Linked DNA regions of Homo sapiens: region 2 is linked to region 1. Evidence: fine-mapped expression QTL. Tissue or cell type: whole blood. Region 1 holds a variant in brackets; the other region holds the start of a gene. Each region is shown on its reference strand, or each on the opposite one.

The links. PIP is the estimated chance that this variant, and not a neighbour inherited with it, causes the effect.
Region 2: TET3 starts here. The variant in region 1 is the best candidate, but not a certain one, in a credible set for the expression of TET3 in whole blood (TOPMed, PIP 0.52).

The regions. Positions count from the first base shown.
Region 1 is chr7:130,882,647-130,887,025 of GRCh38, reverse strand. It overlaps LINC-PINT (long intergenic non-protein coding RNA, p53 induced transcript), which reads left to right. Exons shown (of 8, transcript NR_170176.1): 7 at 2,630-2,709; 8 at 4,290-4,379. Among named protein-coding and RNA genes, the nearest start is that of MIR29B1, 7.3 kb to the right of the region's middle. RefSeq lists an enhancer at 1-549. The variant T/C (reference allele first, on the strand shown) is at 2,502.
Region 2 is chr2:73,983,015-73,987,380 of GRCh38, reverse strand. TET3 (tet methylcytosine dioxygenase 3) reads right to left here and starts at 2,471. Exons shown (of 12, transcript NM_001287491.2): 1 at 2,224-2,471; 2 at 675-1,401. The coding sequence starts at 977. RefSeq lists enhancers at 1,049-1,278, 3,172-4,095 and silencers at 1,759-1,928, 2,352-2,550, 2,309-2,998.

The DNA of each region.
Region 1 (4,379 bases):
TTAACATCATTTCTACTTTATAAATTAAAAAAACAAAACAAAAACAAAAAACTAAAGCCCCAAAAGGATTGAATAGCTTGCCAAGGCTGTGTAACAAGTGAAATTTGAATCCGGGTCTGTATGATCCCAAAGCTTAAGCTGCCCGTCTTTCTATTCCCAGTTCAAACGTGCCTTGAAATGGGAGCTCACTTGATAGTACTTGGCTTTTAAAAGGCTACGTACATGTAAGTACCTTCACTCAAATATGCTGGGGCTCAGTAGGAGAAGCAAAGAGAAGGAAAAGGTATTGATTGATCGATTTGATTCTAAGCAGAGATTGACAGAGATAAGCTTCTAAGACCTTTCAGGCCCCAGAGTGTGACTGTTGAGCACCTAAGAAGACCTCACTTGACCCGTGACTTCCCGCCAGAGCCTTGGGAAGCCCATGAGTGCAGCGTGCTCGCCGGCTGGGCTGGAACTTGCTGCTCTTCTCTGCAGTGGCAGGCTGGCTTCTGCCCCTAGACTGGAACTGCCAAGGGCTGCTATAGAAGGGACAAACTTCCAGTGCTCACTGAGGAGCCAGGGGTATCCTGGGAAGCTGAAAATGCATTTGTCAAGCTCAGGTCTTCACAATTGAGAAACCCCATCACTAACCCGTACGGTTTTCTTGACCAAAACTTTCAGTGCTCTGTTTTTCCCATCTGTAAATAATGTTCATACATCTAAATCCTAGGAGGTTGCAGGGACAGTGGCTTAGAAAGTCACCACATTCTCTAAAGGAGTGACAGAGAGGATGAAAGAAGCATGCTCTATAATTAGGTTTTATTACATGCTTTTTAAGGTTAATTGAAGGACTTCCCAGCAGCTTCCCTAGCCACTTTTTCAAATACTGAAAGCTTCCAGAAAGCAGCAGACAGGTGTTCCTCACAATCTGACACAGACTTCAGTTACTGTTGAAAAGTGAAAGAGGGCTGGGCGCGGTGGCTCACACCTATAATCCCAACACTTTGGGAGGCCGAGGTGGGCGGATCACCTGAGGTCAGGAGGTCAAGACCAGCGTGGCCAACATGGCAAAACCCCATCTCTACTAAAAATACAAAAATTAGCTGGGTGTAGTGGCACACGCCTAAAACTCCAGCTACTTGGGAGGCTGAGGCATGAGAAAAAATCGCTCGAACCCAGGAGGCGGAGGTTACAATGAGTCAAGATCATGCCACTGCACTCCAGCCTGGGTGACAGAGTGAGACTATCTCACAAAAAAAAAAAAAAAAAGAAAAAAATGAAAGAGCTCCTGTCTGACGTTGGTTTTCTATACCCATTTTTATAATCAGACAATTTTGGAAACATGCTATTATGATAGTGTTTAAATATTCCAGAATTCTGTGTGTTCGGTAGCTTCACGTTGGTTTGATTGTTGTTTTACCCCACTGCCTCTTCCTTCCCATCTGTACTTCTCAGCTTGATTTTTTAGATGTATTTTCTGTTGTAGGACAGTATCAAATGGCTTTTTCTGACCATTTATTTTACTGGCCGAGCTCCTCTTGGATTTTAATCTCAACTCTCAAGAATCTTCCCAACATAATCTGTTCCTGTTGTGATATCATCTTTCTTGAGAGCTTCCCAGTCACTGAAGAGCATGTTCAGTAGCACCTGGCTTAAAGAGTCCACCTGCGAATCACAAATCATTGTCTTCACCATTCAGCTCCGACCCACACATCTGGGCAACATCATCCCCACTGGCCAGTAAGCACGGGGAATGCTCTGTGGCCTCAGCTGTGTTCTGGTTCCTCGGTGGAGCTGTAATCATTAACTTAGAAATTGCAATTGGTGGTAACTTAACAGAGCTTTCTTCATCAGACTGCTGAGTCATGCAGCCTCTTGCTGGGTAAAATGTGTCTTGAGATGTAATCCCCTATAAGGACACCCCCTTGGAGCCACTGTGAAGGCACTCCCAGCTTCCCTAGCAGGTCGCATCAGGGGGACGACTGAAGGATTTACTTGAACAATCAGTTTTCAGAAATGAAGACCCTACGACCTTGGCTTCCTCTCTTGTGATGCAGCTGAAAGATGCATTTCGTCTGTAAAGTTAGACCAGGTAGGAGAGAATGTGAGGTGGTTTCCATTCTTCTCAGTTGCCCTCCACCTGATTCTGAAGCCGTCACAGACCGTCCTTGCAGACCGGCGCTCCCCTCCACAAACCTTCTGCAGCCTGTACTGCTACAGCACGAGGCTGCAGAATCAGTTGTGAAAATAGAAGCCTTCTACCGTCTCCTGTGCGGGATCCTTGCCTGCCTTTCTTCTGTGATGGGATCTATAGGCTTAGACTGTGTTTTATTTCCTAAGACACCTTGCTGAGCAAACCTTGCTGCTCTGCCTCGTGTCAGCGGTTTCCTTAGCAACGGCCACACCTCACGTTTTCTCCCGCACAGAGCACCAGCATGAGGGGGCATGTGTTGCTCACTGTACAGGAACTTTCCCAACCTGTGTGTCTTAAGCAGGAAAGAGAAGGTGCTTTCTATTTC[T/C]TGTTTTTAAAAATGCATCTGTTGGTGACACTGGTGGAGAAACATGTTTACGAGAAAACAACTGACTTTTTCTTCTGCTGTTACTCCAGGAGATTTCCTAGGAGCTCATACTGTCATTTAAATTCCAGGTGCAGGTCTTCTGAACAAATGCCTCCTGAGGATTTCTGTGCCTGGAAAATATCTGTTAACAGACTGCTTTTACACCTACGTAAGTAGAGGCTTCTGCTTATAAGTCAACCTCAAGGGAGTTTTATTTTGTCCCTGGATGATTCCTCAGTACATTTTTCTTTTTCTTTTTTGAGGTAGGGTTTTGCTCTGTTGCCCAGGCTGGAGTACAGTGGTGTGATCACAACTCACTGCGGCCTCAACCTCCCAGGCTCAAGCGATCCTCCCACCTCAGCCTCCCAAGTAGCTGGGACCACAGGCGTGTACCACCCACGCCTGGCTAGTTTTTTAAAATTTCTTTTGTAGAGGCAGAGTCTCCCTGTGTTGCCCTGGTTTCAAACTTGGGCCAAGTGATTCTCTGCCCCAGCCTCTCAAAGTGCTGGGATTACAGGTGTGAGCCACCGTGCCTGACAAGCCTGATATGTTTTTTTAAATGATCATTAGTATTTGATCTCTACTCTTTTTCTCTCAACCACCCAACTCCCGGTTTACGGTCAGGAAGAATCTATAACATGAACTCCTGCTTAAAAACAAGGGTATAGATCCCATATTCAGGTCTTAGACTGGGAAGAAGAGAAGGCAGTCAAAAATATTAAATATATGAATTTCAGTAAATTCAGTTGGGGATGCCATTTCAGCTTTGCAGTCAGTTACTCCAGAATATGTCAATGTATGGCAAAGCATGTGACAGCAGGATCTCTGCACCCTCTCCATTTACCAGCTGTGGTGGATCTCTTAGCCACATCTCTGTTTATAATGTGCTTATTGAAAACTAATGTATTACTTTTATTATCATAGCTACCATTTACTGAATATTTACATTGTGCTAACACTGGTTCAGATGGCTTCATCATATTTACCTGATTTAATCCTCACAACAACCTTATGTGCTAGGTCCAGTTATTACCATCTTTTTTTTTTTTTGAGACGGAGTCTCACTCTGTCGCCAGGCTGGAGTGCAGTGGCGCGATTTCGTCTCACTGCTGCAACCTCCGCCTCCCAGGTTCAAGTGATTCTCCTGCCTCAGCCTCCCAGGTAGCTGGGACTACAGGCACATGCCACCACGCCCAGCTAATTTTTGTATTTTTATAGAGACGAGACTTCACCATGTTGGCCAGGATGATCTCAATCTCTTGACCTCGTGATCCGCCCATCACAGCCTCCAAAAGTGCTGGGATTACAGGCGTGAGCCACCGCACCCGGCCTATTACCCTCATTTTACAGATGAGGAGACTGAGGCACAGAGAGTTAAAGTGATTTGTGCAGGGTTGTGTGAGGAGCTGGTGGCAGAGCTTGGCATTCTGGCTCTGGAGTCTGCATTTGGCCATCTCACCGTACAGTGTCATAGAAACAGGAAACTCGAGAAGATAAACTGCCAGGCTGTATTTTGGAGTCAGTATTTTAACACTGTCACCATCTCAAGCATGATCTGTGGGACTCATCACTGTGCTCTTTGACTTGAACTTCTTTAAGGTTAGTGGGAAAATGAAGCTTTAGAGAAGATGGGACTGGCCTAAGGTCACACTGCATGTCAGAAGTGTGGTGGAGGGTCCAGGTCTTCTGACCATTCAGTGCAAGCCAAATTGTGCTAATTTCCAATTTTTCTCCCTTTCTCTTGGTGAGCTATTTGGTGCTACTTCTACTCCTCATGACCAAAGCTGGCTTTCATGGTTTACTCATGTACTTACTGATGAAACCCTGAGACTTGGGGCC
Region 2 (4,366 bases), not on the chromosome of region 1:
ACACCTCCCTGGGGTTGACAGTGTCTCAAAAGCATGTCATCCATTCATGCAATTAGTATCTGAGTGCCTACTACCTGCCAAGGAATTGTGCCAGGTCCCGAGAACACAGAAATAAAGTTTTTGACCGCAAGAAGAACTAAGATAGGGGAACCCAAAACATCAGTTCGTCACTAGATTCCCCAACAGTTTCAACTGGCTCTCTGGCCATCTGAGAAAAACGATGAAAGAAACATCCCACTCCATCAGGGCATCATAAAACCACCCTGTCAATCCAAAACTTTGTCTCCAAATCCATCAGCCTCCATCTCTTATCTTACACCCTCACTGACCAAGTCATCCAAGCATTAGCATGAGCTTGAAATACAACATCTGAGGCTTCAAGCAGCAGGACAAGAAACTTCTAGAGGTAAAGGTAGACATCACAGTCCCGCCTCAAATGCAAACATCAGAGATGAGGGTGCTAGCTCAGATCCCCCTTCTACCCAGTTACTCATACAAATTGTCAGCCCTGCAAAGGAGTCCAAACATGTCAGTTACACTCCTACTTAAAGTTGGACCAAGAGGATCAGAAATGAGAGAATGGACTCAACTGGACGAGCCTTGCTTGAACAAGACCCCCGTGATCACCGTGCCCTCGAGGAAGGAACAGGGTAGCCCAGCAAGGGCCGGCTTACCTCCTTGAGAAGCCCTACTTTTTTCTTCAGCACCTCACATTTTCGCAGTTTGCAGATCTGGTGCGTGCGGCGGTTGGTACAGCTAGTGCAAGCGCCACAGTTTTCCAGCCGCCGGCAGGGCTCACAAGTACCACACCGTTTCCGTTTCTTTCGACCATCTCCACCCCCTCGGAGTTGGGACTCACTCCCAGCCATGGAGAGCCCAGACCCCGGGAAGCTCCCTACCATCACCTGGCGCTGAGGGAAGTCATAAAGGCCTGGCAGGTCCGGCTGGACGGCCAGGGGCACCTGAAACTGGCTCATGATGCTGCCAGAGGTGGGGTCATAGGTGCTGGGGCAGAACCACAGTCGTTTCCTGCCACCTCCAAAGGCCACCAACAGGTCCTTCTCGCCTAGAACAGTCAAGAGTCTACAAGGGTGAAGGCAAGTGGCTTCAGTCTCGTGGATGGATGCCTCTTCTCAACCCCTCTTCACCTCCTCTGCAGCAGTCTGATCGGACTCCGTAGGGGGCCACTCTCCCACCTGCTGGGGCCCAGGATCTGGGGGAGGACACCAGCAGCAGCCCTCAGAAAAGGGATCATCTTGGCCCGGTGGGTTCTTCACCCTCACCCACCCTGGACCCAGGCATGAGTTGAGCAGGTAGGGGTGTGGTGGGGGCAGAGCTGAGTGAGCAGTTTCTCCTGGTATTTTTCCTCCAGGGTCTGGACGCTGGAGAAGGCAGTGCTGCCTGAAAAAGACAGAAAGGGGAAGCGCATCACTCGGGGCTCAGGGACAACTTTCACGTGTCACTTCTTCCTGTTTCTGGGAAGAGAAAATGGGGGAAGAGATGGGGCTTGCTCAATTGAGGTCCTGCCCAGAACCTCAGGCAGGACGCACCCAGCACCCGCTCCCTGTCTGAGGGAGGCGGCCTCGGGCCTGAGGGCTGCTGGGGGCCCTGGATTCAAGGGGGTGATCAAGGTGAGATTTCTAAGAAAGTTGCCCTCTTCCCCACCCCCACGGGCTGGTGAGAGTTTCACCAAAATTCCCCCACACGCCCTGGCTGGAGGCCGCCGGGCCCTCCCTAGGGAGCTGAGCTTTCAAAATAAAGTTTGCTGAGAGCCTCGCTCGGCGGGACTGCCCCGGCGCCCCCGGCACGGAAGCCGCCTGGAGGTGGGGGCGCGCCCTGGGCAGCCCGCGCCCGCCGCGCCCGCCGCCGGAGCGCAGCCCGCCAGCCCGACTGGGGAGGGCGGCCCGCGCCGCCGAGGGGCGCGGGGAGGGGGGCGCGCTCGAGCCGCGGGCCGGGCCGCGCGCGCGCCGCCGCTCGGGCTCCTTTGTTCTGGGGCCTCCGCCACTCCGCTCCGGCGGCTTCGCAGCCCCCGCCCCCGCCCCGCCACCCCCGCCCGGCTCAGCCGCACAGCGCCCCGCAGCACCCCAGTCCGGCCCCCCGCACCGGAGGAGCGGCCCCCCGCCGGATCCGGGCCGTCCCCTCCCCCTCCCCCGGGCCGGGCCCCCCGCGCCTCCCGCCGCCCCTCCCCCACTCCGGAGCCGGAAAGGCACCGACTGCACCGACCTGCCCGCCGCCTCCGGGGCGGAGCGCACAAAGGGGCAAAGTTTCCCGGCCCGCGCCGCCGCCGCCACCACCGTCGCGGCCGCCGCCGCCGCCGCCTGGGGCTCCCGCCTCCCGGAGCGCCCGGCCCGACCGAGCTCAGCGCGCGGAGCCCCCCGCCCGGGCCGAGGAGGGGACGGCGCAGGAGGAAGGAAGAGGCAGCGGCGGCCGCGGCGGCAGCAGCAGCAGCAATGAAGGCGTCCGCGGGACTCCCCGCCCCCCGCGCACCGCGGCACGTGCTCGCCCGGGGACTCCCCCGCCCGGGAGGGCGCACACGTGCGGCCCCGCCGAGCCCCGCCGGCCCGGCCGGGCCCCGGGCCGGGCGAGAGGGGGGTGGTTCCCGCGGAGGGGAGGGGTCGGGTGGGCGGCCTGCGAGCGGCTTGGGGCAGGCTCCGGCCCGGCCGCCGCTTCTCTGCACCTGCAGTGGCTCCCACCCACGCGGTCGGCCCTCCCGGGAGGCGGCCGCCCCCTTCGGGTTGGCCACCCTCGCCCTCCGGCGGGGCTGCAGCCGGGGCCGGCGAGGCGGGGTGGGGCACGCGGACCTTCCAGCCTAGGCCCTCGGCCGAGCCTCGCTCGGTGTCCCCACTTCCTGCCACTCCCTGCGGGCCAGATCTGTCCGGGACAGCCCCGGCGCCCCCGGGAGGCCTGAGCGCCGGGCCCGACTGACCCCCCTGTCCCAGCTGCCGCTGGCTCATTCCGAGGCAGGACAATGGGGGACATCGCGCGTTTGCGTACCGAGTCAGCCTGGCCGGCAAGAAGGGGTTGCTCGGGGGCAGAGGCTAAGGGCACCCTCGCAGGGGTCACGGCCGAATGCCCTGTCCAGGTGGACCCCACGGCCCTGCCATCACCAGCCTCCCCCGCGCCGCGCTCGATTCTTTCGCGTCGAAAACAAAGACTAATCCGATACCCCCGCCCTGCCTCCCAGAGGAGGGGGAACGGGCGCGTCGCGGAGGGTAACTGAGGAGGACAGCGTTCAGGAGGGCCTCGGACAGCCTCGAGGGGGCCGTGGGGCGACTAAGCCCTAAAACCCGGCGCAGACACTTTGAAGAGTCACCCTGGGCTACGTTCCAGGCAGGGGGTAAGGGGCAGGGCTCAGGAATATTTCCAAGTTGCCAAACTGCCCGTTCTCTCTGCTGCTTTTTTCCCTCACCTGTTGTGCAGGCCAAGTTGAAATTCCAGGTTAGATTAATTCAGCCCCACCCATCTGGCCTGACTGCCAGGCTGGTGCCTGCAACTGCCTTCCACCTACCTCGGTTGCAGGGGAGCAGGGTGGGTCTCTGACATACACGCGCACACACACACTCGGGCGAGTCCTGGCAGAAACAGCCACAGGACGGACTGGCCTGACCAGTTTGGGCGGTGCTCACGGAGCCAGGTACCTGGCAGGCGTCGCCGCCCGGCTGCAGCTAACAGCTTAGCCAGAACTGGAAAAAGAGCATTCGGCCGGCTATTTAGAAAGAAAGAAAAAAAAGTAACTGATCTGAAGTAGCGCTGTCCAGAAAGCCCTAGGCGGTAAAGCAGCCCGGGTTCTATCTGGAACTTCCCTCTGATTTTGACAGCCTGCTCCAGGGTCCAGGTTGTCAGCGAGGGAGTGGGTGGGGGTGAACATGGCTGCAATATCCACTTCCTACCATGGCCTTTGGGAGGACTGAAGAGTTTCTGTTCAGGGTAGTAAGACTAGAACCGAGACGAAAAACCAAGAGAGTGCAATTTTCAAACAGGGGAACAGGTTGCAGACTCGTAATTGTTTTTAATGTAATATATTTTTAATAAGCAACTTTATTAATAAAAAATGTGTATAAAGAAGACGTGGAGACTACAGATACTAGAGGGGAAAAATCACCAAATTACAACCATATTTAACCATTTGCTATATTTCCTTGTAGCCTTTCCTATTTGTGGATTTACTCACACTGATTATACAATTTGCCATCCTCTTTTAACTTAACATTGTACCATAGGCATTTCCCTGTTTGGTATACAGTTTTCAGAAAGTGTGACAGTGAGGTGAAGAAGATGGCTCAGGAGCCAGAGAACTCTGGCTTCCAAACCTGAATCTGCCACTTGGTAACAGTGTGACCTTGGACTAGGTACTCCATCTTCAAGG